Linked DNA regions of Homo sapiens. The protein of the gene in region 2 purifies or fractionates together with the protein of the main gene of each other region. This does not show direct contact. Each region holds a gene or a part of one and is shown on either strand. Other genes may lie near its edges.

Region 1 (3,500 bases), on a different chromosome or scaffold from region 2:
GGGGCACTGAAGATCTGGCACAGAGAAACAAGGGGAGACAGGGCAGTGATAAGATCCAGCCCTATTTTTCTAGCATGCATTTACGACCTTGTGGATATGTCTGTACTGGGTGTTAATAGCCCCCTCCTTGTATTTAAAAAAAAAATTAAGAAATTAAAGTGAATCTGTGTGCTAATGAAGTCTGCAGTTACAGAATCTCAAAGCCAAGCCTGTAAAGTCTGTAAGGCAAGATCTTTGTCATCAGGGACGGGAAGAGACGGATAAGATAATGGTAGGCACTAAAGGCTGGTTCAGCCGAGCTCTGGGCAGAACAGCCTCAAAAATAAGGCAACTGTGGCTTCTCAGTTTGAGACTGCCACCAGAAAGGCCCATGGAAGCAGGAAAAAAGAGCCACTGATGGCAGATCACAGGAAGATATTCGGATAGGGCAATGATCACAGTTAGATGGCAGGACTCAGGGTCTCAGGGAGGCAGGAAACCGTGGAACTGACACTCAAGGGGAATGTCTTTGCAAGTCCTATGCACGACTCCAAGCAGCAATTTCTGGGGTTTGGAGATTTGTTAGTTTTGCGACGTATTCCCCCCAAAAGAAGACATGAAGGTGGGCCCCCTGGAGAGGTGAGACCACCAGGGCAGAACCTCCACCAGGCGTGAAGCTGGATGAGAGGTGGAAAGGACTTCCTGCGGCACCCGGCTCCCTCCACGTCTGGCTGAGTCCTACAAACGCTTGTAGGTGCCCAGGAGAGCTCTGCAGTTGGGACAGTAATGGTCCACGTCCTGCAGGGCATCCACGCAGAAGGGGATGAAGCAGCAGCCCGCTATGCACCTGGGAGGAGAGAGAGACACACGGAGCGCGTTACTGATCACAACAGGGTGAACACTGGCTGCCAAAACCATGTTCATGTCCTTCTTTGTAAAAAGGGTCTTTGCCAGTATAATTAGGAATTTTGAGATGGGATCATCTTGGATTATCCAGGCGGACCCCTAAAACCCAATGACCTTAGAAGAAGAGGAGAGGACACACAGAGATACAGAGAGGGCAGAAGGAAATGTGAAGACAGAGGCAGAAGCTGGAGTGATGAGGCCATAAGCCAAGGACACCTGGACCTACTAGAAGCTGGAGGAGGCAAAAAATGATTCTCCCTGAAGCCTTAGGAGGGAGCGTGGCCCTGCTGACATTTTAGTTTTTGGTTTTGTTTTGTTTTGTTTTTGAGATGGAGTCTCGCTCTGTCGCCCAGGGTTCAAGCAATTCTCCCTCCTCCTGGGTTCAAGCAATTCTCCTGCCTCAGCCTCCTGAGTAGCTGGGATTGCAGGCGCATGCCACCAGGCCCAGCTAATTTTTTTATTATTAGGAGAGTTGGGGTTTCACCGTGTTGGCCAGGCTGGTCTCAAACTCCTGACCTCAAGTGATCCACCCGCCTTGGCCTCCCCAAGTGCTGGGATTACAGGCGAGAGCCACCACACCCGGCCCCTGCTGACATTTTGATTTTGCACTTCTGGCCTCTAGAATTGTGAGAGTTAATATCTGTTGTTTTAAACACTAGGTGTGTTGTAATTTGTGATGACACCCCTAGGAAATTAACATGCCAGCCAATGCCAAGGCTCCTCCTACAGACAGAGCCCCTTTGAGTATTATTTTCAAATCTGGGGTCATTTGGGAGTCTTTCAAAGTCTTAGATGGGCTTGGTGAACTTTTTTTGCAAAGGGACAGATAGTAGATCTTTTAGTCTTTTTGTTGCTGTGTTTTGTTTGTTTTTGTAGAGATGGGGTCTTGCTATGTTGCACAGGCTGGTCTTGAACTGCTGGCCTCAAGTGATCCTTCCACCTCCGCCTCCCAAATTGCTGGGATTACAGGTGGAAGCCACCACACACCCGGCCACATACTTTCATCCTGATGAGCCATGGCGTCTCTGTTGCAACTGCTCAACTCTGCCCTTGGAATGAGAAGACAGCCACAGAGAATCCAAAAACCAACAGGCGTGGCTGTGTTCCCGTAAAACTTAAAACAGGCGCCTGGCTCCAGGGTCGTTTTGCCAACCCCCGTCTTACTGATCTCTTTTCCATATAGACAGGCTGCTTCTTACAGCAACCAAGTAGAGTTCCCCAAATAATGCCTCTTAACCTACATAATCCACCTTTGGCACACACAGGCAGGAACCTCAGACCGCCTGACAACCAATGTTTGCCAAAAATGGAGTTAAAACTCAACCCTTCACAGGAAGACGCTGGTTTACATAAAGCAGAATTTGGAAATATTCTGATGAGGAAATTATCTCATGAAAGAAATTTCCTCCTATTGCCTAAGCTTTCCAGAGCTCAAATAAGGGCAGTCAATCCATTCAGCAGGAATCCTAACCTATGGCTTACAGGTGCAGGCACGGCTCCAGGCAGCACACACACATATTTCATCCTCAGCAGGCCCTGAGGTGGGCGTTATTGCCCCGCACCCCCGTCTACAGATGGGGAAACTGAAGCACAGAGAGGTAAAGTCACTTGCCCATGGCCACACAGCTAGTGAGAGGCAGGATTTGAACCCACTCTACCATGTTTAAGGAAGGAACAAAGGGAGGGAAAGAAAGGTTGCCTCAATTTCTAAAGCCAGACTGGCAGAGGCCAATACTCAATGTAAGTTTCTATTCCTCTATAATCCCAGCACTTTGGGAGGTCAAGGCAGAAGGACTGCTTGAGTCCAGGAGTTCAAGACCAGCCTGGGCAACATAGTAAAACCCCTGCTTCCACACACACAAAAAAAAAATTTAAAAATTAGCTAGGTATGGTGGCACACACCTGTGGTCCCAGGTACTCAGGAGGCTGAGCTGGGCGGATTGCAGGAGCCCAGGAGATCAAAGCTGCGGAGAGCTACGATCGTACCACTGCACTCCTGCCTGGACAACAGAGCAAGACTCAGCCTCAAACAAAACAAAACAAGTTTCTATTCCATCTTTCCCTGATTCCAAAGATAAAAAATTTGTTTTAATACAAATATCCAGAGGCAATGGACTTTTTTTTTTTTTAAGCATTTTCTGCCCACAGAATGAAAACAACAGCAGAGTCCTGTGGGCAAGAGGGGGAATCAGGTGCCCAGAAAGCTGTTTTGTCTCCTTCCTTCCTTATTTAACACATGACCTCAAGGAAGTTAACTAAACTCTCTGGGACTCTGAGCCTCTTATTGAAGTTAGGAAGAGAAATATTGTTCCTTCTCAACCTCAAGTCACCAAAGGACAATGTGGAGGAACGTGCCGGTTGCATGAGGCTCCTGAAACTCACAAACACCGTTTCCTTCAAGGAAAAGAATGGAGCCCCTTGGGGTTTTCTGAGTGGCTCACGTGGCCAGGTATAAGGAAGCTACTTTTACCTGCTTGGTGGGAAACAAAAAATTGATTGTGTTTCCTCAGATTTTTCTCCCAGAACAGAAACTGTTATCTCTTTAAACATAATACCTTTGGTGCAGACATAAAATTTATATAATTTCCCTGCATGGGCAATGGGAAAAATACTTC
Region 2 (3,500 bases):
CTGTGCCCTGCACTGCACTTAGTGCAGTTCGTGGATCACCTTACTTCATCCTTGCAACAATCCTAGGAAGACGGGGGTTATTAGCCTCGCTTTACAGATGGGAAATCTGACTGTAGGAGAGATGAAGTGAGCCCCTGTCTGTATGAAGCCAGGCCTGTGAGCCTACCCATTGCACCACATTGCCTCCTACCTCTGCGTGCAGAGAGTGGGATAAAAGCTCATGGCTTGCCTATGGCCCATCTGCCTGGACTGTGTCTGTGACCCCCACTTCAAGGCTAAGAGTCAGCCCTGTCAGCCTCATCTGAGCCTGGTTCTCCCTCTATGCAGCCCAGATGCTCCCAGGGAGACCTAGCCGATTTCTGCCCATGCCCGAAGAGTCAGCAGTTTTCCTGGCAGAAGCGATTCCCCAGCAGTTTTTCTCTCCAGCTCAAGCACTGTCCAACAACAGGGTGGCCACTCATTCACTGCATGTGGCTACCAAGTGCTTGGAATGTGGCTACTGTGGACTGAGTTGTGCTATTGTAAAGTCACATCCATTTTGCAGGCTTAGTACAATAAGGAATGTTGACTATTTCGTTAATAACTTTTAATATTGATTACAAGTTAAACAGATAATATTTGATAGTAGTATACTGGATTAAATAAAATGTGTTCAAGTTAATTTCACGTTTTTTTAGTTTAAAAAATGTGGCTGTTAGAAAATTTAAAATTGCATATGTGGCTTGCATTTGTGACTCATATTATATTTCTGTTGGATGGCACTGGCATCAAGTTCCAGCCACCAGGCCCTAAGCCCTTAAAAAAATTCTACCTGAGGCCGGGCACAGTGGCTCATGCCTGTAATCCCAGCACTTTGGGAGGCCGGGGCAGGTGGATCACCTGAGGTCAGGAGTTCGACACCAGCCTGGCCAACATGGTGAAACCCCATTTCTACTAAACATACAAAAAGCTAGCTGGGCGTGGTGGCAGGCACCTGTAATCCCAGCTACCAGGAGGCTGAGGCAGGAAAATTGCTTGAACTCGGGAGGCAGAGGTTGCAGTGAGCGGAGATTGCACCACTGCACTGCACTCCAGCTTGGGCGACAGAGCGACACTCTGTCTCGGGCAAGGGTGGGCGTGGGGAAGACTTCTACCTGCTTTGGGGGTGGGGCTGGGGGCGGGGGCCTCAGGGAAGGATTGAAAGAGCATTGTCCCCCGCAGACCAGAAAGTGCCCATCCTGGTTTCTGGCAGTGGCTGTGGGTGGTTGTGGAGGCTCAAGCCACAGGTTGGGATGGTGGGGGATGTAAGTGGGAGAGATCGACAGTAAGTTTCAGACCATCCCTCCCGCCCAGGCAATTGTCTGCACAGTCTCGGCTCTCCCGGGCTAACAGCTTGGACAAAGGCTCAGTGGGGGTGCCAGCTGGTGCTGGTGGCCTGTGCTTTCAGGTCCTTGCTCCCAGATCAAAGGCACATTGGTCCGTCCTTGCACGGGGCCTCAGCTAACCAGCTCCCCACAGGCTCCGCTCCTTTGAGGCTGCATAGGCATTAACCCTGTCCAGTCTGGAGCCCAGTTCTGGGGGAGATGGGAGAGTCTGAGGAGCCTGTCATTCTCTACTCTTAATCTCCGCCTCCAGCGATCTTGCTAAGTCCTGAAGAATCATCCCCATCCCTCCTGGAGGTGGAGGAGAACACACCCACCCTGAAGCCAGGGAATGCCCTCATTTACATACATTTACATCTCATTTATTCCAACACCCAGGCTGAAGCCGAGGCTAATTCAGCTGACAGGAAAACCCCACCCGCTTTAGCTCTGCTGCTCTGCTGAAGTGATTCCCCAGGCAGGGATGAAATGAAATGGGGGTGCCTGAGACCGGGTCCTCCTCCAGAGGTGGGAGCTGAGGAAGAGTGGGCTCTTCGGCCTGAGCCCTGAATTTTGCCCACCTCCCAAGGACAAACTGGCCTGGGGGTAGCCACTCTCTTCACTGAAAGGTGGGTGGCCCTGCTTTTTTCTTCATAGCCCTTCCCCACAGTAAGGATGGGGGCCGGGGGCTTGGCAGCAGCTTATTCAACCCATCGACTGTTCATCAGTGTCTGGGTGCCAGGCCAGGGGAACTGCAAAAGGCCCAGGTCATTCAGGTACCCCCTCCAAAGTGCATAGGGCACCCCCCTACCCCAGGCCCGAGTCTTCTTTGTCAGCCCCTTTACACATGCCCAGGTCCATCCACAGGGTATCTAGAATATGCTGAGTGGCACTTCGCTGTCAGCCAAGGCAGCACTGCCCCTGGCCCTGGGTCTCCAGGGTGGGGACCTGGATGGTCTAATACCCTGAAACCACAGAGACCCAGAGTTGGAGTGCCAGCTTAGTCACCCAGGGGCATTCCACCCCGGACCCCAGACCATCTCTGTGTAAACACACATGGTATACATAATCAGGCCAGAAAGGTGCCCACATGTGGCCCAGGAAACACCGTCATGGCACACAGGTGCCCGAGACAGCAATCAGCGTTCTAAGTCTCTTTCTAGCTCAATTCCTTCCAACTCATTTTTCTCAATACTTGAGCTGAAAAAAAGCTTCACAGAGGAACTGTGCACTGATGCCATGGCAACTGAGGCATTTATGGGGCACCTACTGTGTGCACCAAGAGAGATGGAAACCTCGGAGGCCCACCTCTAGGGTCTCTTAGTGTCCAGAGGGAAATAAGCCAATCAACCAATACACTAAATTTATGCCACAAAAGTGTCCATGATGTATTATAGCCAAATGTGCAACCCTTTTTTCTTAATATTCTTTCATACTGAGGTACTCTTTAAACACAAGAAAATGCTTTAAGTATACAGTTGGATGAGTTTTGACAAATGCATACACCTGTGTGAGTGCCACTCCAATAAGACAGCAAACATCCCCTCACCCCAGAAAGTCCCACTATTCCTTTCAGTCAACTGCTCTGATTTCTATCACCTAGGTTGGTTTTGCCTGTTCTGGAACTTCATGCATATGGAATTCTACCTTATGGGCTCTTCTGTGTCAGGCTGTTTTTACTCAACACGATGTTTGAGATTTTTACCTTTTATTTGTTGGCGAGTGTGATCTAAGCTCCCTGTGTAATGCACTGTGAATACAAGTCACCCATCTGGGGACGTGTCCTTAATTTGATCATAAAAGGCGAGGACTGGAAGGGACCTGAAGTCCAGCTATCTCTGGGGACCATAGACCCCAAGGGATCCTTAGGGAGTTGTTATCTCTCCTTCCCTCGGACTTCCTGAAACAGAAGCTCAGCAATTAGACATCTAATAGGCACCTAGGCTCCGCAAGCAAGTGGGGGCTTTCCTTGGGTTTCCAGTTTTGCTGGCAACTAGCTGTCGCTTTATTTAACTGGCAGTCTGTGCTGCATCTGACCCAGCACAGTGGTGAGGCTGTCGCTGCAAATGGCCGGCTGAGCTCCCGTGTCTTCTTCTGACCACGTCTATGAGCAGAACATGAGGAACAGAGGCTGGGGTGGGTGGTCTCTGGCCCTCAGCC
Region 3 (3,500 bases), on a different chromosome or scaffold from region 2:
ATTATACACATACAAGAATATTTAGAATAGTATTGTTAATAAAGAAAAGTTGAAAGCTATGTGAATGTCTATCAATAGAGGAATAAATAAATTACACTCCAATGCCATTCTGGAAAACAGTTCGACAGTTTCTTATAAAACTAAACATGTACCTATCATATGACCCAATAATTGCACTCTTGGGCTTTTATCCCAGAGAAATGAAACCTCGTGTTCACACAAAAACCTGTATATGAAGAGTCATAGCAGCTTTATTCATGATAGCCTCAAAGTGGGTGAAAATGGTTAAATGGTGATACCTTTACACTCTGAAATACAATTCTCAGCAGTTAAAAAAATGAATTTCTAAAAAAAAGCTACTGACACACACAACTTGGATGGATCTTAAAGGAATTATCATGAGCCAAAAAAAAAAAAAAAAAAGCCAATCTCAAAATGTTGCATGCTGTGTGATTCAATTTATTTAACAGTCTTGAAATGACAAAATGATAAAGATGGAGAACAGATTAGTGGTTGCAAAGGGTTAGGGAGGGGGAGTGTGTTTCTTTAAAGGTCTCGCACAAGGGATCCTTGTGGCGATGGAACAGTTCTGTGTCTTGATCGTGGTGTTGTTTACAGGAATCTTTTATTTTATCATGTCATAAAATTGCAAGGAAAACCATTTGGCAGTTTCTTATAAAGTTAAAATATACTTACCAAAGAACCGGCATACATAAATGAGTGAGTATAATACAGAATGAAGTCTGTGAACTATACCAAAGACAATTTCCTGGCTTTGATATTATACTATAGGCATGCAAGATGTTACTACTGGAGAATAAGTGAAGGGTATACAAAACGTTCTGTACTATTTTTTGCAACCTTCTGTGCATTTATAATTTTCTCAAAATTAAAAGTTAAAATATGCAACAGATTGTCATTTCACTATTAAGAATTATGTGTATTCTTTAAAAAAAAAAAAAAAAAGATGTGTATAGCCAGGCACCATGGTTTGCACCTGTAATCCTAAACTAAGGCAGGAGAATCGCTTGAGGCCAGGAGTTCAAGACCAGCCTAGGCAACATAGTGAGACCCTTTCTCTAAAAAATATTTTGAGGCCAGGCGTGGTGGCTCATACCTGTAATCCCAGCACGCTGGGAGGCCTAGGTGGGCAAATCACTTGAGGTCAGGAGTTCAAGACCAGCCTGGGCAACATGGAAAAACCCCATCTCTACTAAAAATATAAAAATTAGCCAGGCGTGTTGGCACACGTGTAATCCTAGCTACTCAGGAGGCTGAGGCAAGAGGACTGCTTGAGTCCAGGAGTTCAATGCTTCAGTGAGCTATGATGGCACCTCTGCACTCCAGCCAGGATGACAGAGTGAGACTCTTCTCCAAAAACAAAAAACAAAAAACAGGCTGGGCGCAGTGGCTCACGCCTGTAATCCCAGCACTCTGGGAGGCCGAGGCAGGCGCGGATCACAAGGTCAGGAGATTGAGACCATCCTGGTCAACATGATGAAACCGCGTCTCTACTAAAAATACAAAAAAATTAGCTGGGTTTGGTGGCAGGCGCCTGTAATCCCAGCTACTCAGGAGGCTGAGGCAGGAGAATCGCTTGAACCCAGTAGGCGGAGGTTGCAGTGAGCCGAGATCGCGCCACTGCACTCCAGCCTGGCCACAGAGCGAGACTCCGTCTCAAAAAAAACAAAACCAAAAACAAACAAAAAACAAAGCCATGTAAAAGAAGAGCACAGCATATCACTGAGTGGAAAGGACAGGTTGAAAATAACACACATAATCTCATTTATGAAAAATTATGTTTGTATGCATGCTGAAGCATATTGGGAGCTCTAGAAGGGTGGCCACCAAAATGTTAATAATGCTTTTTTGAGGGGAGAGGTGTTTTCAAAACTTCCTTTTATATTTTCTGTATTGTTTAAATTTTCTACAACAAACATATTACCTTCATGACAACAACAAAAAAAACACAAATATTTTAATAGGATTTTTAAATGCTCCAAATGACTATCAATATGGAAGAAATAATAGTGGCATATTGCTCATGAAAGACAGAAAGCACATTGCAAAACAACCTAATCCCATTCTTGAAAAAAAATCCATATATTTTATTACATGCAAAATCTGGACAGGCCAGGTGCAGTGGCTCACACCTGTAATCCCAGCACTTTGGGAGGCCAAGGCAGGAGGATCACTTGAGCCCAGGAGATGGAGACCACCCTGGGCAACACAGCAAGACCCCCATCTCTACAAAATATTAGCTGGGCATGGTGGCGCACACCTGTAGTCCCAGCTACTTGGGAGGCTGAGGTGGGAGGATCACTTGAGCCCGGGAGGTTGAGGCTGCAGTGAGCTATGATTGTGCCACTGCACTCCAGCCTGGGTGACAGATCAAAACCCTGTCTCAAAAACAAAAAACAGAAACCAAATAAGAAAACACTGGAGTGGGGAAGGTTTTTCTAGCTATGACTCAAAATCCAGAAGCCAAAAGAGAAAATACAGATACATTTTATTACATAAAAATTATTTAAAAAGACACTTCTACCTGGCCAAAAGAAGGCCATATGTAATGTTAAAAGACAAGTGACAAATTAGGAAAAATATTTGCATGTAATAGTTTTATATATGTACAATAGACAAGAGCTGATTTTCCCATTATGTAAAAGTTTCTAGAAATTGATAAGGAAAAGTCTAACCCAATATAAAAATGGGCAAATGGCGGGGCGTGGTAGCTCATACCTGTAATCTCAGCGCTTTGGTAGGCTGAGGCAGGAGGATCATTTGAGCTCAGGAATTCGAGACCAGCCTAAGCAACATAGCAAGATCTTGTCTCTACTAAAAATCAGAAACATTAGCTGAGCATGGTGCCATGCACCCAGTAGTTTCAGCTGCTTGGGATGCTGAGGTGAGAGGATCACGTGAGCCCAGGAGTTTGAGGCTGCAGTGAGCTATGATGGTGGCACTGCACTCCAGCTTGTGTGACAGAATGAGACCCTGTATCAAAAATAAATAAATAGAGCCAGACACGGTGGCTCACACCTGTAATCCCAGCACTTTGGGAGGCCGAGGCAGGAGGCTCACCTGAGGTCAGGAGTTCAAGACCAGCCTGGCCAACAAGGTGAAACTCTGTCTCTACTAAAAATACAAAAATTAGTCAGGCGCAGTGGAGCGTGCCTGTAATCCCAGCTACTCGGGAGGCTGAGCCAGGAGAATCGTTTGAACCCGGGAGGCAGAGGTTGCAGTTAGCAGAGATCACATCACTGCACTCCAGCCTGGGTGACAGAGCAAGACTCTGTCTCAAAAAATAAAAATAAATAAATGGTGAACTTGCACATGTGAGAAATAATATAAGCACAGCTACATTGTTTGTAAGAGCAAATAACTAGAACCAGCACAAATATCTATGAACACGGGACTAATTAAATAAACTGTAACTTATTCCTACAACATTAGAATATGCAGATGAAAAAGTGGAAGCTCTGCTCTTATTGACATGGAAA

Evidence for each region. Proteins that work in one complex are often made in the same cells at the same time.
Region 1: the proteins of SCN5A (region 2) and LITAF purify together in Homo sapiens (affinity purification with western blotting, with the first as the bait; one study listed by BioGRID). This does not show direct contact.
Region 3: the proteins of SCN5A (region 2) and ADGRG5 purify together in Homo sapiens (co-immunoprecipitation; one large-scale study listed by IntAct). This does not show direct contact.

Annotation. Positions count from the first base shown.
Region 1 is NC_000016.10:11,548,920-11,552,419, forward strand, and holds part of LITAF (lipopolysaccharide-induced tumor necrosis factor-alpha factor), read right to left. Parts: intron 2,886-3,500; coding exon of another isoform or gene 2,804-2,885; exon of another isoform or gene 2,788-2,803; intron 827-2,787; coding exon 718-826; 3' UTR 1-717.
Region 2 is NC_000003.12:38,639,688-38,643,187, forward strand, and holds part of SCN5A (sodium channel protein type 5 subunit alpha), read right to left. Parts: intron 1-3,500. UniProt on the Homo sapiens protein: Pore-forming subunit of Nav1.5, a voltage-gated sodium (Nav) channel that directly mediates the depolarizing phase of action potentials in excitable membranes.
Region 3 is NC_000016.10:57,545,643-57,549,142, reverse strand, and holds part of ADGRG5 (adhesion G-protein coupled receptor G5 isoform 1 precursor), read right to left. Parts: intron 1-3,500. UniProt on the Homo sapiens protein: Orphan adhesion G-protein coupled receptor (aGPCR). Ligand binding causes a conformation change that triggers signaling via guanine nucleotide-binding proteins (G proteins) and modulates the activity of downstream effectors, such as adenylate cyclase.